Homo sapiens: one gene and its partners. The protein of the gene in region 2 purifies or fractionates together with the protein of the main gene of each other region. This does not show direct contact. Each region holds a gene or a part of one and is shown on either strand. Other genes may lie near its edges. The genes, in order: F13B, TF, DLD, UPF1, OXCT1, ANGPTL7 and KRT72.

Region 1 (4,043 bases), on a different chromosome or scaffold from region 2:
CTGTTAAGTCTGCACACCAGATTCACGCCCTTTCCTGAGTTCTGGACAGGAAAGTTTGTGTTCGGTTGGAATTGTTACTAAGTTCAGCTGGAGGTTTCCTTCTCCCTGTGGTCTTTTCCCAGTTCCTCCGGCAGCCCCTGTGAGACAAGTCAGAAATGGCTTCTCTGGGGACCCACAGAGACGATGGGGCTTTACCCTTTGCTTCCTCTACCCCTGTATTTCGCTCAGCTCTCTAAATTGTCTGAGCTCCAGGTAAGGTCAAATCCTTCTCCTGTGATCTAGACCTTCAGGTTCCCCAAGGGTGTGTGTTCAGGGGTGGACAATACCCCTTTCACACTTTTCACAGTTTGGGCATTCACAGTATGTGGGCTATTTTCTGGGTCATGCAGGAGCAATATACTTTCTTCAGAGGGTCTGTGGATTATCTTGGCTTTCCTGTTATATCCTTGCAGCAGTTCTTGGAGCAAAAGTTCACAATGCGAGTCTCCACATCCTGCTCTGTCCATCCAAGTGGGAGCTGCAAGTTAGTCCTGCCTCCTATCCACCATTTTTTCCTATTTTGTATTTTAAATTAAAACTCATTAGAATGTAAACTCCATGAGGGCAATAATTTTAATCCAGTTTTTTCACTGCTAAATACCTCAAAACTGTTACATGTGCTGCCATTATCATGGACGTTCTAAACATTTCTCATGAATGAATGTTGATATAGCACAGTGCTGATCTCACCACCTGCCACAAAGTAAAAACTCTCTAAATGTCAAACACTACTATTATAAGTAATACTATTCTATCATTGAGACAACTATGGTTCTGTATCTCTTTAAGGAGTGCAGTCTAGGCAACAACATATTTCAACATCAGGTATCTGTTATCTCATGTTCCTAAGTTCATCTTTTTACCTGATCAATATTAGTAAAGATCTATGGCCTCAAGTGAACTTTACTCTATGAATTTACAATTGGGAACTTAGGTTGAAAATTTACCTAGTATTATTTATTCTGCTGCTATAATTTATTATTTATTCTGCTGCTATTGTTGCCCTAATCAGTTATCATGCTCTTACTGGACTCTGACATGGTAAGTAATGTCAATTAATATAGTTGTGTTATTTTAACATTATTTCAAAATATTTTAAGTGAAATATAAGACTCGTTACAAAAGGACTTAGACAGAGGTTATAAATTATTAACTTTTTCCTCAAGAGAAGTATTGTGTACTTAATGACAAGTTCCTAGTGCTTAGAATTGTTAAAATCTTTGTGAAGCACACCACTGAAGATGAGGTTGAAAAACCTGACTTTTATCATCATATTGATAATCTCAGGAGAACTCTATGCAGAAGGTAAAATTAATTCTTAATATTCTTTATTCTCTAAAACATACAAATGGAGATTCTAATATTTATACAACTCAAGTTTTAATATACTCTTCTATTTTCATTATCAATTTTATAACATATTTTATAAATATAACTTTTTATAATATTTAGACCTTTTCCTTTGAGCAAAATTAGTAAAGTGTTCTTACAGTAGCATAAGTCAGAAAAGCAAAACAAAACAAAAACCCTTGTATCTCTAGGGGGCATAGGAGACCAGGATCTAAATACTTCGAAAAGGTTTTCAGGTTAACAATATGTCCATTTCGAAGTCACATGTTAACTTTAATTCTAAATTTATGCTAGAATCCATTCCTAATACTGACAAAACTTGTACAATTTTAATTCTGTTCATAAGGTGAGAGTTTAATGTGGGAAATTTGAAAAGGAAATAGCCATAAATATTTTTTACTTTTGAGACTTTGATTTTTATCACAATGAATTATTCATTTGTTGGAGACATTAAGTAGTGATTAGTAGGTGAACCATATAATTGCTTGTACAAACAGGGACACTTAGAGAGTAAAAGAGGGGCTCTATTAATAACTGTTTGGACAACACATGTAAATCAGGACTTTCCAAACAAACCAATACCTATGGACTCCCTATTAGAAAGCTTTATAGTCAGATTGCCCAATGTGTAAGATTAGTGTGCGAGTGGAAGCTAGGCAGTGTACATGGGTATGTTGTTCAGGAACATTATCAATATTATCAGGCCATAGGATGAAGAATCCAGGGAGGACACTTAGCATTAGCAAGAGTGAACATACAAAGAAGGAAGCTACAGCAATACAGCTTTTCTAAAATAAACATTTTTGGGAATTTGTTGAAATTAAATACATAAGTTTTAACTGTGTTTTAGTTGAATAGTTAACTATAAATTTTCTACCAAAACATCTATAATTAAAATTATAAAAGTGAAAGACACAGAATTAATCTTATTTTATACTTTTAATTCTATAATAGGATGATTTTTGCATGAATTTCTTTTGATTTTATTTTTCTGTCTAAATAGGGAAATACCAGCAGATATAATTGTCTGTTATCTATACCATAAAGACATTGCAATATTCTAGTTAATTTTCTAATTATTATAAGGTTATAATGCTATTTTACACAACAAAAAAAAAAGTAAGCTGCTTGAAGACCAAGACAATGATTTTATTTTTGCATGCTTCTCTCAACTCCCATTGTGCACTTCAGGGACAAGAATTGAATTAATTGTGTTTCTCATTTCATGGTATGCAAGTATTATTGGCCTATGAAAGGTCTCACTCTTGCTTTACTTACACATTTTATCCCCTTATTCCTAATCTTGAAGTCCATTTCCCCTGGGACCTACTACAATGTTTTAACATGTTACTCTAGCTCTCTCAACCACAAATAGCTCTGGAATGAATATTGTAATATAACCAACTTATCTTTCTGTAAGAATGTCATCAGTCTGTATTCACTCACAGATAGCATTATTGAGTCTATTCTTGTACTTGATTTCTGTAATGAGAGATTACTTTTGCAGAATGGCAGTTTTGAAGTATATCATCTCTGAGAGAGGATGTAAATTGTTGCTCCTCATCATTCTCACCAACACCTCATATTGTCCATTTTTGTACTGGTTGCTATATGGTTATTCATAAAGTGATATCCCATTTTTATTTATTTACCATTCTCTGATCAGTAGTAAGTGTGTCCATCGCTTCATGTACTTTTTTTAATATGTTCAGACATCTGTGATTTCCTGGTTTATATGTGATTAGTATATTCCTCACATTTCTCATTAATTTTTTGTCAGGAATTCATATTCTCCAAGGCATTCCAGCTACCTTAACAAATAATGTGCCTATCCTGGTGGTGGAGGGAGATGTCCCAGGACAGAGAGTCTTTAAAGCCACAACCTAGGATTGTTGTGCAGAGAATACTTTGCTGCCCCTCCCTGACAAGCAACTGTGCCCCTCAGGGAAATTTCTTGTGTATTCACCATTGCACTGCTATTTTGGAAGACTCTTTTTATTGTAAATTCCTTTGGTGCTTGGGTGTGAAAAAATGGTGAGAATAATTCTCAAGGAATGGGGACTATCCAGCCCATGTTTTTCTGTCTGCTCCATCAGATAGTGGAAGTTTTGTTGCTCATCATTCCACATCCATTTCCTTCAAACCTAGGCTAGCACTACTAGTATTTTATGTCTCATAGTAGCATTAAGGTATACAGTGATCAACCAAGGCATTGAAGCCGTAGTAATCACACTGGATCTAGGCCTTCTTCCATCCATGACTGCCCATGTTTCTTCCCACCACAGCTCCTAGGATTGTTCGAGCATTTCTTTCTTTTAAGTGTTTTTATGACTTTAAGATCTTCAACATAAAGATATATTTTTAAAATATATGTTTTATTTGGAGTATAACATATCCAGAAAAATGCAAAAATCACAGGATACACTTATATAGTTTTTACAAAATTTTACACCATCCAGATCAAGATATAGAACAGTGATAGTACCCCAGAAATATGATCCTTCTAAGGCACTAAACCCCAAAGGTAACCATTCTGACTTCTATTATCATGGATTAGTTTGTTTTCTTTTAAAAAGTTATGCAAATGTATACATTAATTCATATGTGATTGGCTTCTTTCACTCAATATTATGTTTATGAGATTCACCATTTGT
Region 2 (2,874 bases):
TCAATATATTCAATTTGGATCATTTTATCTTTTCCGTGACGAGTCATGTAATGCAGAAATTTTACTAACAAAAGCTTTAACGACTTAGGAAGGACAAGGTGGCCATCCTGGTTCTCCATGAGTTCATGCTTAATTAACATTAGACTCATATCCTCTTGAATACCAGTTGTTTCCCCAAATTAGGTGCATAACACTGATAACTGATGGGTTATCATAGGTAATTTGATTTAAATGATGGAGTTTATTCAAATTTTATATCTAAACAGTTTCAGTATCAGCTGATTTAGCATGAAAATCTGGCAAAGTATTTTCTTGGTATTTAATTAATTTTTGTTCTACTTGGGTTAGCAGTTTTAGAACTCAGTCAGTCTTTTCATTAAAGTTCCAGGAATTCTTACCCAGTTCAAATGATATAATTCTAAACTTATTAGAAACCTGTATTCAAGAGTGCTTTTTAGGGTCCTTTCCAATCTTTCATGAATCTCCTAAAAGACACCATATTCTAGGACTTTGCATGCTTGTGAAGTTTTCAGAAACTGCATCAGCATTAAGCAATTAACTGTGGAAATGACTTTAAATAGTTATAGTTAAAAACACAATTGACAAGGAAATTTGGTTATTTCTGTGGTCTACAATAACATAATAATCATAATTATGATTGATAGCATATACTCAGACATATTGGAATTTTAGAAATCTCATACAATTTTGGAACATATATTAATATTATTCACTAAAATATAACCTGAAGAAGATTAAATTTTTTTCTTTTTGACAATGCTTCCCATGTAATTAAACATGTCAAATAATTCTGTTTACCTCTCTTTTGGATGCTTCAGGGGCCCTCTGCAGCATCTCAAAGTTAGAGGTTAGAAAAGACAATTTTGAAGCTGAAATTTGATTTTGGGAAGCCTATTAAATATGTTAAAGATTTAAAACACTTGACATTATGAAATGGAATTCCAGGTTACCATAGTCATTCATTTAGCAAAATGATGACTCAAAAATGTTTTAAAAGGCAAAAACCTTTCCATGTTGATAGATGGAAGACTTACTTTACAAACAATCTGTCTCTTGTCTTTCCCTTCCTTTTTTTTGGTGGGGGGGTAGTTTATTCAAAAGGCAAACAAAGATCTTTCATTATCTTTTAATACTGCATGAAAATCTTGTTCAAGAGAGAAAGCCAAATTTCACCCTTGCATTAGTGTGCTATTAATGTCAACCCCAATTTTTAAGAAAACCTTGTAGACATATCTTTCCAATCTTAATCCGTTTGACCATAAGGTGAGATTCTCATAAACCTTTTATAATCCTTTACAAATGTTTGTTAAAGAGCAGATCGGTGCTTTAAGAAAACCCTGTTTGTGCTTTTATTTTGATGTTCAATTTATGGAAAAACCAGAAAATACCCCTTTAAATTTAGTCAATATGTTCACACACATAATTTTTTACAATATTAATTTTTATAAATCTTCCACAACTCATTCAAACTTTTAGCTTTATCCTAACTTAAAACAATCCTTTAACCCTTTAGACAGAAAAAAAAATCTACATTCCCATGCCTTGTTATAATCTTTCACTGAAAATGCATTCACTTTTCTTACGTAACTTGCATGTAAAACTGTTGCTTCAGTAGTCTCACTTACATGTTACAATGTTAACTCTTAGCGAGTTTTACTTTTGGTGAAAACTTTGGTAAGTTAAGGATTTTAATTATATATTAGTTGTGGAGTCTAGGACCCAGAGAGAAGTACACTTAAGGTCTGACTCCAGCATCTGACTCCACGTGTCTCAGGCCTTACCGAGCTGTAAAGCAGGCAAGTTGTAGAGTTAAGAGTCATAGTGGCATTTTATGAAGCATTTAGGAGGTCTAATCACCGTTAAATTGTATATTTCTTGCATAAATTCTCTTTTGTAAATTATTTCATGACTTACACAGACCATCTACGACATGCTTTGACTTTCTAACTTGTCCTAAACATCCCTCTTTTTTAACAACCGCTTATTTTACTTTAGGACACGAATTTACGATATAAGATCCTTTCTTATATAAAATCTCCTTTCTTTATAACCTTCTTTGCATAGCTAGGGGACATGGCTAATTCTATTTGTCCCCAGGCCTTATCTAGAATCTAATGCTCCAAAATAAATTGAGCAATTTTTAAAAGTCAAAGAAGCGGTTTATGACCTTAAAGCATTTTGCAAATCTAATATCTGACCTGCATAATTTAGACTAAATATTTACATTTTGAAGATATTTTTATTTTACCAATAATCTTTAAAACTGTCTTTATTTCCCAAAGATTACTTAAGTTACATGAAGTAAATAGAAGGCATTACATTTTTTACTTTTCTGATAAAATATTTGATTTAAGCTCTTATTATTATTAAGCTAATTAATTAATGCTCTTTTATAGTACACACACAACACATATAAATACACAGACAGAAGATAAAGGACTCATTCCCTAAGCCAGGAATTGAACCCTAAACCCAGGCTGCCACTGTGAAAAGAGAAAGCATGGCCACATGGTTACAAGGTCAAGCTCCCAAAGACATGACTGACCAGTCTGCTGGTGTGTCTTGAACAGCAGGTCTATGGGGTCCTAAGCACACATTTTATTCTAAGGTACCCCTCTTTATGACAAAACAATACAGAAAGACACAAAGCACACCAGATTCACTACAGCTTAAGATCGGCCTCAGAATTCTTTTTTTATATTAATCAAAACTTTACAGAGGAGATAAACAGTGACTTTTACTATTCATTTATGCAGTTTGCACAGAGAGACAGAGACCAGAGTCTGGCTGGTAAGAAATTCTTACCCTTTTGCCAGTATGCCAGGTTTCTGGGTTCTGTCTCCCAAAGCAGCC
Region 3 (3,500 bases), on a different chromosome or scaffold from region 2:
CAAGACTCGGACTCAAAAAAAAAAAAAAAGAAAAACAAAAATACTAACAATTAAAGGGAAGCCTAAGAAAGGGGAACTTGCATAATATGGAGAATTCAGCCCAAAGAGCAGATGTAAAAATGGAAGAATATGAAATCACAGAAGTTAGGCAAAGTGTTTCAAAGGCAAGAAAATCAGCAATGCTAATTACTGCCAAATAAAGCAGTGAAGAAATTAGTCCAACAGATTGAGCAATAAATAGATTCATGCCCTAAGAGCAATTTATTGGCACAAGCCATAGACTGAGTGAGTGGAAGTTGATGAAATAAAGCATGGACAACTCTTTTGAGAAGCTGGGTTTTGAAGGAAAAGTGCGAACAAAATTGGTAACTCAAGAAGGACATGGGACCAAGATAAGGAGCATTTATGTGCACACAAACCTGTGTTAATGAGTGCAAATGCATCACAGGTACACACATAGAAGCACATGAAATTGTAAATAAAAGGAAGGAGTTTGAAGACTGAAAAATACAAGAATAAAAATCACAAAACCAAGTCTCTGAAAAGGCAGATGATGTGCTACCAAGCACAAGTAAAGGGATTAGTCTTAGGGAAAATGGCATTTCCACAGTAATAGGAGAGGTAATCAAAAGGATAGGTGTAACAACAGGTAAAAGCATTATCAAATTTAGGACATCAACTTGAGGGAGTTCTCATCTGATTTCTCTTTTATGTAATATTTAAAAGACAAGGTCATCCACAGGCAGAGCAGACAGTATACAAGCAGAGATTTGAGAAGAGTAGAAAATGAAAATGGCCATTGCAGAGACCAGGGCAGTGTACCATCTTAGGAAATAATAAACTGTCAGCAAGGCTGAGGTTCTTGTTAAGGTTTGTGCCAAGAATTAATACAAGTACCAATGAGTAGGGTGTGTTTTTCTCCAGGTGTAGTCAACAGCCTGGAAATAGCATAAAAAAGGCAGACTGCTGCATTCAAACCGAACTAGAGTTTTGCCAAGCAGATATGACAGAACAGTGAGACAAGCAACTCAAGGACATCTGTAAGAGTGTGGTTAAAGTGATGGACTATGGCATCTAAGCTGATCAGGAACGCAGTCAAGATTGGAAAGGGAAGATTGCAAAAAAGTAGATCTATGGACTAGAAAACCTAAAAAAGGGTACAAAGTACACTATGAATAACTGAGTAAAAGAGGAAAGGAGGTCATGGTTACATAATAAAATATCTGAATTTATTATTTCAGAAGTAGAGCAATTCCTGGTGTTTACAAGGCACAGTGACTCTAAAATGGAGGGAGGTCATTGGAAATGTGTGGAAAGCTGCCAGATGGACAAGAAGGGAGAACAAGGCAGACAGAAGGTCTAAAATAACATGGTGTTCAAAGAAATGCAAGTAGTTTGACATTTCTAAAACCTAAGTTAAGAGGCATCAAGATGAGGATAGAGAAGGGAAGAGCCAAATCATGTATGTGATGGTAAAGAGAATAATCTTTATTTGGAATGCAATTTGCCCAGGATAAAAGCTGTCCTCAAATATCTGAATGGCTGTCATATTAAAAAAGAATTCGACCAGTTCTAGGAAATGGAAGGGTGGAAGGTACAAGGAAACAGACTAAAATAAAGGAGAACATTCTAAATGAGTAAATACATAAATAGGTTGTCTTGAAAAAAACAAAAGTAAACTCTTTATTACTAGAAGTGTTTAAGCAAAACTCAATGCTGATCAGCCTGTAATGTTATACAAAAAATCAAAAAGGGGACCTTTAAGTCCCTTCCAACTCCAAGGAGGTAATAAGAGGCAGAAAGACAACACTTACCAATTCTACACCTATTACTCCTGCACCAATAACAACCATCTTTTCTGGAACTTTTTTTAAAGATAAAGCACCTGTAGATGACACTATTGTATCTTCATCTATCTGTAAGAAAAACAAAAGATATAATCAAAATAATTTGAAAAAACCTAGTACAGTCGACCCTCCATATCCATGGGTTCCAAATTTGCAGATTTAACCAACCATTAATTGAAAATATTCAGGAAAAAAATTGATGGTTGCATCTGTACTGAACATGTACACATGGTTTTTTTGTCATTATTCCCTAAACAATACAGCATAGGAACTACTTGCATAGCATTTACAGTGTATTAGGTATTATAAGTAATCCAGAGATGACTTAAAGTATACAGGAGGAAGTATGCAGATTATATGCAAATACTATGTCATTTTATGTAAGGCACTTGAGCATCTGTGGGTTTTGGTATCCAAGGGGGGTCCTGGAACCAATCCTCCAAGGATATGAAGAGATAAATGTATTTATAAACTGTGATCTCAGTAGAATCACTAAAAATACTAAGTCATTTATTTGTTTTGAGGTATCTATATACCTAATTTCATCAAATCCCATTAAAAACACTGACTTTAAATTTTATCCACCAATATTCCAAACGCAATGGTCAATTTTAACTTCATACTGTATTCAAACATATCTTAATATAAAGTGTTCTATAGCTGGTCAGAATCACTGCAGAATAAAGACAGGTAACTTCCCAAAGCTGAATGACCATCAAAATATAGTATTTCAGTCAGAAATCTCTCAAAGTTCACAAATAGCATAAATAACTTATAAAACGTATTTCTAAAGAAAAGTTGTAATGGTTGTAAATTATGAAGCATAAATACCGTGATTCCAGGAAAAGGAGTAACTTCTGAACCCGTGGCTATAAGAATGTTCTTTGTATCAATAACCTGAGTGCCGCCATCAGCTTTCGTAGCAGTGACTTGATTTTTGCCAGTTATCTTTCCATATCCATTGACATGAACAACCTTTACAAAATAATCTTTATAAATTCACAAAGTTTAAAGTAATTTGTTTGATAAATCATTCAAAGGAAAAATTACTCTGTAAATAATTTATCTAAAACAAAATGCTTCCTTACTTAGTAATGCTACACCATGGTGCAGCAAAAAAATCTGTGATATATGTCAGGGAAATCTATTTCAGGTTAGCAAGCTATTTTAAATTAAATAAATATTCCCCTGTAACCAAGTTCAAATATCATCACTCTATAATGCAAAGTTTAATTTGTATTCAAAGTAAAGCAGAAATCTGAATATTAAACACTGACCTTATTCTGTTTGAATAAGTGGGCAATTCCACCTGTTAAAGCTTTTACTGCAGTACTCTTCTGCTCCATCATCTTGTCTAAATTCAAGCGAACTTCGGACACTGTAATTTGTTCAATTAATCTTTAGTTCTTAGCTAAATTCTTGAAGCAATATGCAGTGTTTTTCACTCACCAACTGGAAAATTTCAACCTAATGCTTATAAAAGGCAGTATTAAAGTTTCAAAATGTAATAACTTATAATTATAGTTGACAAAAGGCCAACATCATTGTATCACAGAAACAGAACCTATCAAACACTATAAAATGTCTACCTTGGGTAAAAAGGCAGTCCAAAATAAAACATTATATCCCACTGTGATAACATATCCTCTGAAC
Region 4 (3,500 bases), on a different chromosome or scaffold from region 2:
GGCGATGTTGCTCGGAGCACACACCAGCACCGGCCTGCAACACCATTGGGGCAGCTCAGTGCTTACCCAGAGGAAGCTCGGTGAACGTAGTAAGCCAAGACTCTGTTTTTTGAGACAGGGTCTTGCTCTGTTGCCCAGGCTGGAGTGCAGTGGTGTGATCTCAGCTAATTGCAGCCTCAACATCCTGGGCTCAAGCAATCCTCCCACCTCAGCCTCCTGAGTAGCTGGGACCACAGGTGCACGCCACTACCCCCAGCTAATTTCTGAATTTTTTTTTTGTAGAGACGTCTCACCCTGTTCAGGCTGGCCTTAAACTCCTGACATTTTTAACAGGCAGTAATGACACGATGCCGAAGGAGCTCAGATCCAGACAGCCCAGGCTTCACAGCTCTACCCACCGCAAGCAATGCCAAGGCTGGAACTTGCACCATCCCGCCACACTATAAAGTGCCGCACACGGAACTCACGCTGCTGCAGCCATGCCCCCCCTGCCCCCAGTTTTCTAAACCAGTAGCAGACCTGGTTACTAAAATGCAATCCTAAGGTTGGAGCTGACACGAATAATGTCACATAGAGAGCGGTAGGCACCATGGCGACACTACCCGCCACGTGCTCTCTTCGGTGTGACAGAGCCCAAGGCTCCCAGCACCAGGCCTTCCATCTGGCCACCCTAAAGCCCTCCCGGGTCTTGCCCGCAAGGGCCGTGTCAGCCCTACCCGTTGCCTTGCCGGGCCAGGTGGTAGACGATGGTGGCCGACGTCACCGTCTTCCCCGTGCCTGGCGGGCCCTGGATCAGGCTCAGTGGTCTTTGCAGCACAGTCTTCACGGCATAAACCTTCAATACAAGCGGCCGTTAGGGGCAGCCTCCGCTTGCGTCCCGGCCCATGGGCGAGGCCCCGCGCGCTGAGGACGGCGCGCACCTGGGAGTGGTTGAGGTCGGGGAGGCCCTGCGCCGTGAAGCGCTTGGGCAGCTGGCACTTGATGATTACGTCCTCCACCTCGTGGCCCAACAGCTTGTGGTAGATGTAGCCAGACACCGAGGTCTCATCCACGGCAAACGTTTTCAATGCGCTCTGCATCCTGTGAGGAGGGTTTGGGGTTGGCGACACGCACAGCTGTGGCCGCCTCTCCGACATCCTGAGTTTGCAGAGCTGGGTGGGGAACCCCACTCCACAGTGACGGGGAGGGCTCATAAAGATGCCACAGGTGGCAACCAGGGAACAGGGGGCAGTGATGGGAGAAGACGTACCTGTCAAAGGAGGTCGACTTCCACACAAAATCCACCTGGAAGTTGTGAGTCACCTCCACAGGTGCACCCACGCTGCTCCGCAGCTCAATGGCGATCTCATCGCCATAATCTGTGTGCTGAGTTAAGTTTGCATCCTTGTCAAAAGCCGGGCTGACCTTTCTGGGCCACCCTTGGTACACGCTCTTTAAACAGCGTTTTTAAAATTTAGTTACTTAAGACACCGCTGGCTCTGCACCAAACGCTAAAAACGTGCAGCCAACACCAGACCAGAGACCAGAAGGACAGCATCCTTGAAGAAAGACTCTACCTCACCATGAGCCGGTGTCCCACCCCCAGCCAGCCTGGAGTTCCTCCTTGCCACTCCCAGCCACCCATCTAGGCCCCTTTCAGAGACGCAGAGGGCGGCAGCGAAGCCAGCAGCGCTCACCAGCAGGGAGCAGCCACATCCTGGGCCCCAGGACCTCACCGGGAGCTCCTGCACATGTGGCCAGCAGGGGCAGGCAGAGCTCGCAGAACCCAGCTTTGGCCACAGCAGCTCTTCTCACAGTTCCACAGAAACAACACCCCTCCCAGTACGGCCAAGCAAAAGGCTCCACATACACAAGCAAACTGCCCTCCAGGAGGCTGTGGCCGGTAGGCAACACCCTTCCCTCGACCCCGAGCCCCAAAACCGGTCTCACGTGTTCAGGATGAGCTTGTCAGGCCCAGGGTGGGTGTGGGAGACAACTCTCCCTACCCCTGTGGAGGCCACCGCTGAATGGTCAGGCCCCAGCAGCATTGGCCAGTCACCAAGAGGCAGCCTGAGTCTGACCCGCGGTGTCTTCTCCCAGGACTCCTCCCCACCCAAGCCTCTGACTGCACCTGTGCCTTACAGCTGCCCCACTCTGGCCGGCAGGCTGCATCACCATGAGGTCACTGCACATTCCCAAACATGGCCTGGGAGCAAGTGTGTGCTCAGAGGGTCTGCATGTGACCACTGGCTTCTGGAACCTCCGTGTGCAGAGTCAGCGTCCAGGTAAGGCGCTCCTGCAGCCACATTAACCTCCAGAGTCAGTCCAGGGACGTGCCACACAAGCGGCATACATTAACTTCCAGAGTCAGCCCAGGGACGCGCCACACAAGTGGCATCACCAACATCACCATTCGGGCAGAGGGGAAGCAACCATACAACCAGCTGTCCCCTGAAGGTGAAGGCCCTGTGATTCTCCTAAGAGCAGTGGAGGGCGATGCCAACCAGCACCCACCACAGAGCATGAGATGCTGGCCCAGCAGTGAGCATCAAATCCACAGTGGCCTCCACCTGATGCCCCCACTTTCCTCTCCCACCAGCCGGCCACACCCTCTTCACATGAAGGATACTATCAGGGACCTTGATGACGTGGCCGATCCCTTTCCACAGGGGCGCAAGGTCCCCTTTGTACCGCAGGCATATCTCATCCCCCTGCATGAGCCGCATGTCTTGAGGTAAAAAAGTGAGAGAGGTGGCCATTTTAACCCACGCCGTCGCTTCCACCAGGGAGAGTTCAAATTAAGGGGCACTTTACAAGGGTGGAACTAGGAATTTATGCTACTTATGGTCACAAATATTTTAAAACTTAAAATCACCTCTTAACCAAATTATGACTAAATCCTCATTACCAGAGTCAGTCTTGGGCAAAGTGAAGTAGGCGATTCTCTTCTTGTTAAGGCCCAGGTCCCACCTGACAGTGATGTTATCTTGAGTCTGAGCACATGAAAAACAAGAGCCCCGGTTAGCCTCCAGCACAGGCCCGGGCCTGGCCTCCACATGCCCGAGGCCCCATGAGGCGGGCCCTACAGCAAGCCTCTGCCGTGAGAGCAGGCGCCGTGAGTGGCACCTGCAGCCCCAAATGCCACCAAGGGCACATCTGAAAGAGAAGCCATTAGGAGTCCCCGGAACACACACAGGCCAATCCCGTCTGGAGGCTTCACCGCACACCAGAGGCCTCCGTGGCCAGGGAGCAGCTGCTGTGGGAGGGAGGAAGAGAGAGAGGAGGGGAGGGAGGGACAGAAAGAGGAGGGGAGGGAGGGACAGAAAGAGGAGGGGAGGGAGGGAGGGGAGGTCAGCGCTCCAGGGCTCCCGTTGCCTAAATGTGGTCTTCACAGGGATCACGCCCGAGTCTAACTCTCGCAACTGTGGGCAAAGCTGTGGACCCCACTGGGAAAGATGTGTTGGATTTAAACAGAAAACACTGAGGCTGATGTCAGATCTGAGGGCGGGGGCTCAGACCAC
Region 5 (3,500 bases), on a different chromosome or scaffold from region 2:
ATTCTTGTTAGCTTCCTAGGATCGTGATACAACTGCAATTGCTGAAATAATTTACTTAAAGACAGATAATTAATTCCAATATGGAAACTTCAAAACTGAAATATTAATTAATAACTAGAAATACTCAATTTAATTAGAATCAAAGTCATTCACCAAGAATAAGGTCATATAGCAATATGAAATGCCTCCACATTAGTCTGTTATTTTAGAATTAATTTAAAAGACAATTTTTCTATCAACATAAAACAGTTCAAAAGAACAAGGATCAAGAAAAACTAAACTCAACATTGTTGTGGTGAAAGAATTAGCTTTCTGGTGACACGCACGCACACAAACATACACACCTTTAAGTTGTGAGTACTCAGCTTAACAGATACAGTGTCCAAAACAAACGTTTGCTTCCATGAACTGACTTATACAAGGATAGTAGTATTGATTTTTGTTTCCTAAACTAATCACTGAAATCTGGAAATCTGTGAGGTTAAGTAGCCCTTCTTATGCTGTTCTACTACTATATGCCTTCACTAGGCTCCTCCTACAGTGCAAGAATACCAGGGCTTACAGAAGACATTTTACTTATTGTGCAATGCTCACAAATAGCTGAAAAAGGCAAGGACATGGTGGATAAAAGCTATCTTCTTTGATAAACAGAAAAATCAAACAAAAATTCCAAGGAAAGGTCAGAAAATATGTCGGCATCCAAGTTGAACTACTGGGTAGAGAGGCATCTGGGGATGAGTGAGGAGACAGGGAAAGTGGGGCCGAAGACCCCTTGCCACTGCACTCTATGTCCTCCCCTTGAAAACTCTGTATGCTCCAGTATTTTCTATTCGAGGTGGAGGTGGGGAATGCAGAGCAGCTAAGCACTACTGCTACCTCTTCAACTGGTTGGAACTTTCAGCCATTAGGGCTCATTCACATCTTTCCATATTCAGTTTTAGCCTTCAAAGAAGTTCTTGACTTTAAAAATGTGTTTATACATTAATCCAGTATCCTGAGGATAGACATGAAGATTTATTATTCATGAAAACACTAATCACAAAATTTATTATAATAATGAATTGAAAACAACTTTAATGTCAGCAATAGGGAAATGGTCAAATAAACATGGTGTAGCCATGTGATTAATCAATATTATGCACTCATAATATTTAATGATCTCATAATTTCATGTTTCATAAAATGCAAGATTTTGTATAAGTAAATAAAAATTTATAGAAATGCACTTTGGGATAGACAATTATTTATATACCTACAGAAAATAAAAGGAAACACACGGAAATGCTAAGAATTGTTATCTCTGGGTAATAGTACAAGTGGTTTTTGTTTTCCTTTTACTTTTATAATCAAAACTGAAACCCACAATGTTATTTTTTCAGAAGATGTGATAAACACTAAGTTTCTAAAACTAGAAAATCATAAGTGGAGCATGTGATAAATCTCACAATTAGTTTGACATGTACCAAAGAGGGCATGTTAAAAAGAAAATAGAGAGTCTAAGAAAAACTGAAGTTTCTAAACCCTAAAAGCAGTCACATTATGAACTAAACTAAGCAAACCCTTCTTGCCTGCACATTTGAAAATAATAATGTGAATTATTTTTCATGCCTAATATTGCTCCAAAAGGTCAGGCCCTCAAATCTCTTGCTATGATTGTGACAGCAGCTTCCTTTGGTCTTCCTGCCTTACCCTCTAGCAGGGGCAAAGAACATAATAAAAAAGGAAGAAAAAAAAGTATTGCTCACTTAAACTGAAAATGCTGATGGAAACCCGCCACTATTTTCTTTTGGTTCCATCAAAGAATGTTTCAACAGAAAACACCAAATCAAGACAAAGCTTCATTACCAAGGACAATTATATCATAACTCTCAGAACTAACAGAATGAATATGTCCTGGTAAAACAACTCCGATAAGCAAGAATCTAGCTAAACATAAACAATTCCATGTTTTGTCATCCTAATATAAATGGCTTTCAGACTGTAGAAAATGCATGTGCAGCATTTGTCAAAATAACAACACTCAACAGTATTGAAAACGTCTATACAAAAATCAAAGCTTTCTCAGAGTTGGTTAGCAGAGTTAATAGCTAAGAAAGAAAATATTTGAAGTACAAACCAAAAGAAGAAAACATGTTTTCAGACAATCTATGAAAAGAGTTTAAAAAAAAAAATGAAGAGGCAGAACTATCTTAATGCTAGCTATTGAAGGGACTGACTTCAGTGCCAGTTTCGTGTGATCTTGAGAACAATAAGGAAGGAGCAATGGGAGGATTAAAAAGTCTAGTGAGATCAGGCGATTTAAACATAAGCGTTAATGGAAAACCTGATGAGAAAATGATGACTAAAATGAGCTGGTTAGGACAAACATAAAAATAAAAGATCCCTTACTAAAGATGGCAGAGTTTTCCTCCTGAAGTTAGAAATGGGTAATAAAGAATAAAGGACAAAGGAAAAGCCTCAGGGCAAAGCAATGGGCAGATGTAAGTATCCTCAGGCAAGATCAAGATGGAAGAGAGGTAGCTAAGAACAACCCGGACTTCTCCATGGCACTATGAATAGTTCTCATGCCCCACCACTTGCTACAACCAGAAATCCAGACGTTTGAGGCTTCTCTAATTGGTACTTGTCTTTAGTCATTAACAGAAAAATAGACACTAGGAAATGTTGTTATTGATCTGAACTTTGTTTTAAAAGATTGCTTTCTCTGCACTGCACTCTTCCTACTTTATAACTGAAAACTTATTTTAAAGCTTAGAGAAGGATAAGAATTCATCCCTTGGTGACAATGTGTTTGTGATTGCTTGGCAAACATTATATCTCAGGTAAGAGAAAAGAGGAGCTGCAAGGCAATAACGTCCTCATTTTTTATTTTATTTTAGTGACAACCTCAATCTGTTATAGACACAAAAATGGACCCAACCCTAAATGGTGTTAGCGAAAAATTATACACACCTGCAAAACTCTGTGTACGATACAAAGTAAGGGCTGTTGAGGGGGAGGAAGAGGGAGACTCACATTCCAGGCTTTCTTCCTGACTCATTTTAAGTTTCAAAAAAGTTTAGGAGGAAACTTCTTTTGCCAAAAAGAAAAGAAAAAAAACAGACAACAAGCAATAATGTCTAGAATCATGAGAAACATTAACTCCAAAAGAGAGGGAAAAAAAAAAAAAGCAGCTGTGGAAGTCTAGAAAAATAAAAGGGGGAGACAATAAGCAATAAGAGAAGTTACAAGTTAAATGCAGAGGTGCTCTGGATGTTAAAATGAAGTAAAATGAGTAAAATGAAGAGGAAATGTGAGTAAGACCTCACGTTCAATAGATAAATAGGATAACTATAGTTAAAAATCTATTGTACCTCTCAAAGTTGCTAGAAGAGAATAATTTGAATGTGCTTAGCATAAAGAATAGATAAATATGGTAATGAATATCCCAATTACCCTGATTTTACCTTTATGTTATACGAATATGTCAAATTATCACAGGTACCCTGAAAACATACAGG
Region 6 (3,932 bases), on a different chromosome or scaffold from region 2:
CATCAGTGTCTGCATTTGGGAGAGGTGGATATGGGGAGATCCAGAGGGGGTGTATTTTGGCTTTACTAGCGGTGGAGCAGAGGGGTAGGGAAGCCCTTCACCTGGATAGCATTAGTGGGACGTTCCAACAGGTGGTTTCAGGTTAACTCTGAAATAAATTATTCTGCTATAGCTGGGCCATGAATTCTAGAAATGTTACAGTGTATGAGGGCCACGTAACAGATACTCCTGTCAGATAGATTCAGACTTCTTAGACAGCCGCCACTATAACAAATCAGTCGTGAATATCTCATAGAGTCTGGTTTTGTTGATGTTTCCTGGTTGGTTGTTTTTGTTGTTGTTCAGAGATGGTGGCTACTGCCACCTGAGACCATAATTAAGGGAGATAGATTTTATTATCACATATTTTCCCCTTCCATCCAGCTAGCACCTCAAAACACTCAGAAGAACCTTTGAGGCCTTCCTCCCAGAAGTTTTGTTAAAACAATGAAATGAGAGCATCAGACTGGCCAGTTTTTTTACTCTAGGGCCATGGAGCTGCTACTTTATGCAGGATTTAAGCTCTGTATTCTAAATATCAAAGAGCATAGTGGAAGAGACAGCCTTTTCTGATAGGATTCAGAGACTGCGGCCCTTACTATCCAAGAGAAGCTTCCTGCCTGCTATGTCTCGGGGTGCTTTTCTTGGTGACCACTGCACTGGGACCTTAGAGAGGAGCACCAAGATGGCAGATGGGAGTTGTCTGAGGCACATAGGTTCTCTTGCAGAGCACCTTGGGAAAGGGAGGTAGAGTACGTGTGCCTTCGCCATCACTATTCTTCATTTCGTCTTAGTGGTGAAAGCACCAACTTACTGCTTCCTCTAAGGGACTACCTACTTATAGAATATAAGGGTAACTGAGCACTTGGTCATAGAGAAGAAAAATAAGGAATGATGTCCTGGGCAAGAAGAGCAAGAGACCTGGTGGGAGAGCTGCACTTGACCCCAAGAACCTCCTTGCAGGATGGTGAGAAAGCCTCCTGTTTGGATGAGCAGGAAGTGGCACGGTCAGATTCCTCTGTCTGGCCTGGTCTTCCGCATGTCTGGTTTCATCTCACAGACCAAATCAGGACTCACTTGTCTGGAAAATGGCCTGAGAATACCTTTCTAATCCCAAACTGAGGGCCCGGAAGTCCATGCTTAGAAAGTGATTGATACATGTTGGTTCAGGTAACAGAATTTTCAAGCTTGGTTTCATGTTAAAACTTTTTCTTAATTTGAGCTGAGGTTAACCATTGACTTAGTCAGTAGAAGCTGATCATGTCTTTGTTCTTCATGTAGTTTATAATGGGACCAATGGTTTTTATATCAGCAAGAAATGACATGTCTATAGGATATGCTCCTTACAACTAATATTTTCCTGATAATTTCAGAAAACCAAATTTTTATCTCTAAACCGTAAATTCATGTTGGCCCACCTGAGCTGAGCTAACCAGAAATAAAAGTTATTTTGCAAAAGAAAGATTAAATTTATCTTATTTTTGGCCTATTAAGTCTATATTTCAGCATTGCATTTAAAAAATCCTGTATTCGGAGAAATTCATTTAAGACCATGGAAAAAAATAGACGTATCACAATTGAGGAACCTTAAGGAGCCGCATCCTTCCTGAACACAAAGGGACTCTTCACATGGTTATGTGTCTCTACACTTAACTCTGAGCCAATGAGAAGAGTTACGTTTACAGAGAGAGGACACAAAATTCCATTAATGCTCATTCCTGGTAAATCTTAGGAACACCAGAGAACTGTTTCTGGCAAAACTTTGCTTCCAGAGGAACAGCTGTTACAGTTTGGTGCTTCCTTGGAATTTCTTGAGATATAGCCTGTCAGCTCTTGGTGAGGAAGTAGCAGAGCTACACCAATCAGGAAGACTTGAACCCTGCTTCTAAGACTTGCTGGGTGACTTTGGGCAAACCATGTAGTATCTCAGCACTCCAAGATGGTAGGCTGAAACACTGTGTGGATAAAAGAGACCCGTGAAGGTGTTAGGTAAACTTACATAGCATTAGAAGTCAAAGGAAATACTGCATAAGCCTTTACTAAAGGGAAAGTGTACCCACAAAAGAGGCCCCAGTAGTGGTTCTGATGACCAGGATATGTAGAAGCAGTGCTGTAGATGGGGAGGCACTCCACGCTCCCTCAGGGGACTGGTCTCCTTACCTGCGGAGGTCTGAGTGACCGTCTGTGCTGCCTGCAGCTGCATGATGTCAATTTGGTTGTTCATCTCGGAGTACTTGCTCTCAGCATCTGTGAGCCGCGACTCCATGCGCTTGCTGTTGCTCTCCAGCTCCATCACCTGCATGACCACGCTGACCCAGTCCCTCTCCTGCTTCTTGTTCAGTTCACTCAGCAGGCTGCTAAGGTTGGCAACTTGGGCCTTGAGCTCCTTCACCTCCTCACAGCAGTTGGCCGCTTTGAGCTGTGGCTGTGCTGGTGTCTTGTGCTTAGAGAGCTTCTGCAGCCACGCTGGGTGGCTGACAAAGGCCACGATGAAAATGCAGAGCCAGGTCACAGCTGAGAGAGGCTTTTTCAGCATCTTTTGTGGGTTTGGGTGAGGAAGGCTCTTCCTTCAGGGGAGTCTGGAGATGCCCAGCTGAGGTCTGCAAAGCTGCAGCAGGCTGACTGAACCTTACGCTTTCACTCTGAGGGCCTCGCCACTTTGTTGTTTTCTCTCTTTCCTTGCTCTTTGCTAGCCTTTCTCAAAGCTTGAGTCTCTGACAGGGGAGCTGAATGGGTAGCCTATAGCTTTCCTTCCAAGCCCGAATGCTCCACAAGTCAGCATCTTAAATATTGTTTGCTGCCTGTACCTCCACCCCTACCATGGCTGCACCAGGCTTTAGCCCCTCCCAGCTCATCTGGGAGGGTCAGGTGCCTGTTGGGTGAAGTCAGCGGCAACTTAGGCCAGAGGAGGGGAGGAGGGAGATGGGGCGAGTCTTTCTTTCCTTGCCTGTACAGTCTCTGGGCTAAGACAAGAGGACTGTGAATTTGTGTGTTTCCAGTTTCGCCTATTAGATTATGCCCCTGCCAGCCACTGGCTCAACTCTATCAGCAAGCAGGACAGGGTCAGAAGAATTTCCAAATTCCGTTCAAAAGGTTATATAACCATGGGGTGAGCGTAAGGTAGGCGAAAGAGACGCTACTCACCCAGGGAGGCCTGTTAATGTAATCCATGCTGTTTATATGAGGATCTGGTATATTTTGACATCCTGCTGAATATGCTTTTATCTAGGCTGATTATTCCCATCTCTGATCATTATTTAGTATTTTATAAAATCCTTACTCAACCTGGATCTAACACTATCTCACATTTGAAATCTTCCAACTTAGAAAAGTTCTAGAAATAGAAGAATAGAGTAAATCTCTTAGGAAGCCAAAAAAAGACTTTGTAGCCACAGGGTTTGGACAGTTGTCTTTTTACATGCTTTCTCCTTCAACAAAGAGAGGGCCAGTATTAGCATATAACACTTGATATTTTGCAAGGAGGTGTCAGAAGATTACAACAGAGATGAAAACTCAGCAGTGCCAAGCATGTCTGGGATTGGTCACCCATGCTTCTGTCAGTTTCTAGGCAGGACAGAGAACAGGCCCATCCTTAGCCCGTGGTTCAAAACTTGGAAAATATATTAAAATATAGAGAAAAGAATCCCTGTCACCTAATAAATCCATATCTAGAGTCTCATTTCCCTCTTTCTTTGCTGGTATGGTTTGCAATTTGAAATTATTCCTCCTCTATTTGTATATGACTTTGTATCTAAAAAACATGAATATTGTAATTTTTCATGTACTATATATGAAGGACAATGCTCTTTTGAAAAGAAATGTGAAAAACATGGAGTTTCAGCAAACATCCTTAAAATAAGCTTTTCACTAAGAATCTATACAAAGGTTCCTCT
Region 7 (4,173 bases), on a different chromosome or scaffold from region 2:
ATGTCAGCCAATTACCCCCAGGTACCATTTAACCAACCCATGAGGTCCCCAAGGGGAACCCAGCCTTCAGGGTATCACTGAAGGTGCAGTAACAAGCCTTGCCCTAAGCACTCTGCTGTTTCACAATCATCCTAAATGTCCCTTTGGCCAAGGCCTGGGCTGAGCACTGGGGGAGCAGAGGAGGGAAGGGTGAATCCAGGGGGCCCTGTCAATCTGATAGAGGAAATGGAACACACACCCAGGACTCTGGCAGCTTAAGAAATAAGAGCAATGAAATAATCCCACCTGCATGCCAGAGGAACAGGAGAGCTGTTGCTAAGAGAGGAGGAGACTTGAAGGCAGCTTAAGTTTGAGAAAAGGAAATCGGGTTAGGTGGAAGAAGGAGCCTCTGTAGCTTAAAGGGAATGAAGTTCTAGAATCTAGTTCTTGGTTTTAGATCTGAAGAGTCTTGACCTCTTCCTAATAACTGATCACATTTTGATGCTGAATCAGAAATGACTGGGTGGCAAATGACCTGAGCAGAGGTTTGCTGGATGGGATAAATAAGCCTCTTCTGCTATTAAAAGAAAACAAAAATGAAAACAACCGAAAGCCTTAGGAAACACCATCTGCTAAACCATGCCTGAGTCTTCCTGTACCACCTCCCCAGGCCTTCTTCCCTCCCTCCCAGATAGCATGGTCCCCATTCTTAGTCCAGAAATGCTTAGTGGAGAAATCTTTTCGCTCTGGTCCAAAGTCAACCCTCAACACTTGTGACCAGAGGTCTCTGTGTCCTGCCTTCTCCAACAGACTGAGAGGTCTCTGCAGACGGGGCCAAAATCTCCTCCTTCTGAACTTCCTTCTTGCACAAGGGACAGAGCTGTCCTCATCCAGAAGCCTGGGAGGCAGGAGGAGGACAGGCTAAGGATGATTTTCTGCGATAGTCTTGACTCTATTCATGGCCTTCTGAAGCAGAAGCAGCCTGGACTTCTGCTTCACACACCTCCGTCTCCCCAGACACACACCCAGAGGGTCAGCCCCACTGGAAGTTTCCAGGGGTGATCTTGGGAGTGATAACCCCAGTAATTGGAGGCCAGCAGGTGGAGATAAGGTCGCTAAGCCATGATAATGCAGGAGGTGAGCCAAGTAAATGCTGGGTTCTGGGTCACTTTACAGGGATTCATGGGGAGTTCACGGTGGAACAGACAAAAATCTCGGTGAGTGCATGGTAATTTCCTACATGAAGAACCCAAGAGGCCTCAAGGGATCTAAAAGGTGTTGTCGACATACAAATTAGGCTGACTCCAGCCAGCCAGGCTATTTAAGGGGCGAGCTGGGCCGAGAACGCAGCGGCTGTTTGCGCCCCTTCTGCCTCCCGCGCGGCCAGCACCGGTACTTGCGAGCCATGAGCCGCCAACTGACCCATTTCCCCCGCGGGGAGCGCCTGGGCTTCAGCGGTTGCTCCGCGGTCCTCTCTGGCGGGATCGGCAGCAGCTCCGCCTCATTCCGGGCCCGGGTCAAGGGCTCGGCCTCCTTTGGCAGCAAGAGCCTCTCCTGCCTTGGGGGCAGCCGAAGCCTGGCGCTCAGCGCTGCTGCACGGCGGGGCGGCGGCCGCCTGGGCGGCTTCGTGGGCACCGCCTTCGGCAGCGCCGGGCTGGGGCCCAAGTGTCCCTCCGTGTGCCCACCCGGGGGCATCCCTCAGGTCACCGTCAACAAGAGCCTCCTGGCCCCGCTCAACGTGGAGATGGACCCCGAGATCCAGAGGGTGCGCGCCCAGGAGCGGGAGCAGATCAAGGCGCTAAACAACAAGTTCGCCTCCTTCATCGACAAGGTGAGTCCTCGGGCATTGGCCTGTCCCTGCGTTGGGCGCATGTGCACAGTGGTGCTGGCTCTGCCACTGGCGAGCTGTGTGGGAGCGTGGGCGGGTCATAACCTCTCCGAGCCTCCCTTTTCCATTTGTAAAATGGGCACAATAATGGGTCTTACTCCAGTGGGTTGCGATGAGGCTTAATTGGGATGTTTACGAAGTGCTCAGAACAGTGCCTGGCACATACTTCCAATAAACAGGATGTATTAGCCCATTTTCATGCTGCTGATAAAGACATACCCGAGACTGGGAAAAAAAAAAAGAGGTTTCATTGGACTTACAGTTCTCCATGGCTGGGGAGGTCTCAGAATCATAACGGGAGGCCAAAGTCACGTCTTATATGGCGGCGGCCAGAGAAAAATGAGGCAGAAGCAAAAACGGAAACCCCTGATAAACGCATCAGATCTCGTGATACTTATTCACTATTAGGAGAATAGCAGGAGAAAGACCGGCCCCTATGATTCATTTACCTCCCCCCTGGGTCCCTCCCACAACACGTGGGAATTCTGGGAGACTTAATTCAAGTTGAGATTTGGGTGGGGACACAGCCAAAACGTATCAAGGACCTTCATTTCTTTCTTGCATGAGACAAGACTGTGAGAAGGGAGGGGTCAGGATGTCCAAGGAATGGGCACTTTGAGAGCTCCCAATATCAGAAGAGGAGATGGGACCCACATTCAGGGCAGGGCATTAGGAACAGAGGCCAAGAGACGTTGCAGGACATGGTGCTTGGTGCTTGAGGAGTGGGGTAAGTGTGTAGCCAGGAAGATGATAGAGGAGGTGAGAGAAAAGGGCCAGAAAACTGAAGGGTGAGGCTGAGGAGGCACTTGGAAAGAGTGCATGTAAAGTTACAGGTGTGTGCTGAGGGTGGGGCATCCAGAAATTGGGGTAATAGGGAAGTTGTCTCTGGAGCTTCTGAGGCAATGACCCCAGTGAGTGGAGAGGAGACAGGGAATGGACTTCTCTTGTCTCCACCTGGATGGAAGGTCTAGACGGTGAGTGATAAGGGGACAGCCTGATAACAATAGCTGACATTTATGGTGCCGTCCCAAGTGATTCTCATTTACAATCACAACCCATGATTCTGTTGTTGTTCTGCCTTGCAGATGAGGATATTAAGACATGGGAGGCTAAGAAATGAGCTCACCTTGGACAGGACAGTTGGTGGTGGACCGAGTGTCACCACTATGCTAGGGAAGAGGAATTGAGGTGGCGGGAGGGCACAGGTCTGCATGGAAGAAACACAGCAGCTATTCCAGAGGCCAGAGCATTCTCTTGCTCTTTTATGTCTGTTGTTCCCTAGCATGTTTCCTTCTGCCCCTCAAGCTGAAAGATAGGTGAGAAGAGGAATGCTGGTGTGTGGCAGAGGGCTTGGAGTTATTGAGTCTAAAAATGTGCACCCTGGTCAAGTATGAAGGAACTTTGTGAAGATGTGGTAACTTGCTGTGAACAACAAAGAAATGAACAAACCAAGTGCAATTTAGGCTACACAACAGGAGGAACGCTCTAAATGCCAGTGTGCTTTCCAATGTCACTCCCCAGTCCCTGTTTCTCCCCTGCTCCCCATTTCTCTTTACTCAGAAAACACCAGCATTTATAGCATGAGAAGCTACCTCTGTCTCATGAAAACTCACTGAGGCAGAGGCAGATGGTACCATTGCTTAAGCCCTCTTCCTGATTCCATATAGACCGGGTCCTATTTCTTGTCTTGGAGATCCAGGTGAGCATGTCCCTCGGCTGAATCCACCCCGGGATAAGCCTTGTTTTCTCCTACCCCCAGTCCCCCAGGATGGCTGCCTCTGGTTTTTGGGGCCCTTTCCCCACTCTTGAGAGGCAACAACATGGGGACTCTGGGCGATGACTGCCTTTGGGTTCCAGGTGCGGTTCCTGGAGCAGCAGAATCAGGTGCTAGAGACCAAGTGGAACCTCCTACAGCAGCTGGACTTGAACAACTGCAGGAAGAACCTGGAGCCCATTTATGAGGGCTACATCAGCAACCTGCAGAAGCAGCTGGAGATGCTGTCTGGGGACGGGGTGAGGCTGGATTCGGAGCTGAGGAACATGCAGGATTTGGTGGAGGACTACAAGAAGAGGTGAGTGAGTGGCAGGGAATATGGCCCTGGAGGATCTGATTTCAAATGAGGTTTTCGTTTGGAGATGGCATTTTTGCTTCTGAGATCCTTGCTGATACCGGGGGAGGGAGGAACATCCAGACAGAATGGAACTAGGAAAAGAATAGATCTACCTACACCGGTTCTCCAAACTGTCGAGGAAATGTGTGCTCAATTTCTAGCACTGAAAATGAAGGAATGGGGGAAAGAGAGTTG

Evidence for each region.
Region 1: the proteins of TF (region 2) and F13B purify together in Homo sapiens (co-immunoprecipitation; one study listed by IntAct). This does not show direct contact.
Region 3: the proteins of TF (region 2) and DLD fractionate together in Homo sapiens (co-fractionation; one large-scale study listed by BioGRID). This does not show direct contact.
Region 4: the proteins of TF (region 2) and UPF1 purify together in Homo sapiens (co-immunoprecipitation; one large-scale study listed by IntAct). This does not show direct contact.
Region 5: the proteins of TF (region 2) and OXCT1 fractionate together in Homo sapiens (co-fractionation; one large-scale study listed by BioGRID). This does not show direct contact.
Region 6: the proteins of TF (region 2) and ANGPTL7 purify together in Homo sapiens (co-immunoprecipitation; one large-scale study listed by IntAct). This does not show direct contact.
Region 7: the proteins of TF (region 2) and KRT72 purify together in Homo sapiens (co-immunoprecipitation; one large-scale study listed by IntAct). This does not show direct contact.

Annotation. Positions count from the first base shown.
Region 1 is NC_000001.11:197,064,461-197,068,503, reverse strand, and holds the start of F13B (coagulation factor XIII B chain precursor), read left to right. Parts: upstream 1-1,243; 5' UTR 1,244-1,280; coding exon 1,281-1,344; intron 1,345-4,043. UniProt on the Homo sapiens protein: The B chain of factor XIII is not catalytically active, but is thought to stabilize the A subunits and regulate the rate of transglutaminase formation by thrombin.
Region 2 is NC_000003.12:133,791,393-133,794,266, reverse strand, and holds part of TF (serotransferrin isoform 1 precursor), read right to left. Parts: 3' UTR 1-2,874. UniProt on the Homo sapiens protein: Transferrins are iron binding transport proteins which can bind two Fe(3+) ions in association with the binding of an anion, usually bicarbonate.
Region 3 is NC_000007.14:107,904,683-107,908,182, reverse strand, and holds part of DLD (dihydrolipoyl dehydrogenase, mitochondrial isoform 1 precursor), read right to left. Parts: intron 3,226-3,500; coding exon 3,125-3,225; intron 2,823-3,124; coding exon 2,679-2,822; intron 1,917-2,678; coding exon 1,815-1,916; intron 1-1,814. UniProt on the Homo sapiens protein: Lipoamide dehydrogenase is a component of the glycine cleavage system as well as an E3 component of three alpha-ketoacid dehydrogenase complexes (pyruvate-, alpha-ketoglutarate-, and branched-chain amino acid-dehydrogenase complex).
Region 4 is NC_000019.10:18,852,459-18,855,958, reverse strand, and holds part of UPF1 (regulator of nonsense transcripts 1), read right to left. Parts: intron 2,973-3,500; coding exon 2,888-2,972; coding exon of another isoform or gene 2,855-2,887; intron 2,708-2,854; coding exon 2,609-2,707; intron 1,383-2,608; coding exon of another isoform or gene 1,359-1,382; coding exon 1,250-1,358; intron 1,081-1,249; coding exon 921-1,080; intron 836-920; coding exon 717-835; intron 35-716; coding exon 1-34. UniProt on the Homo sapiens protein: RNA-dependent helicase required for nonsense-mediated decay (NMD) of aberrant mRNAs containing premature stop codons and modulates the expression level of normal mRNAs.
Region 5 is NC_000005.10:41,807,926-41,811,425, forward strand, and holds part of OXCT1 (succinyl-CoA:3-ketoacid coenzyme A transferase 1, mitochondrial isoform 3 precursor), read right to left. Parts: intron 1-3,500. UniProt on the Homo sapiens protein: Key enzyme for ketone body catabolism.
Region 6 is NC_000001.11:11,188,223-11,192,154, reverse strand, and holds the start of ANGPTL7 (angiopoietin-related protein 7 precursor), read right to left. Parts: upstream 2,801-3,932; 5' UTR 2,576-2,800; coding exon 2,200-2,575; intron 1-2,199. UniProt on the Homo sapiens protein: Has a role in the formation and organization of the extracellular matrix.
Region 7 is NC_000012.12:52,598,664-52,602,836, reverse strand, and holds the start of KRT72 (keratin, type II cytoskeletal 72), read left to right. Parts: upstream 1-1,373; 5' UTR 1,374-1,384; coding exon 1,385-1,810; intron 1,811-3,534; coding exon of another isoform or gene 3,535-3,566; intron 3,567-3,724; coding exon 3,725-3,939; intron 3,940-4,173. UniProt on the Homo sapiens protein: Has a role in hair formation. Specific component of keratin intermediate filaments in the inner root sheath (IRS) of the hair follicle.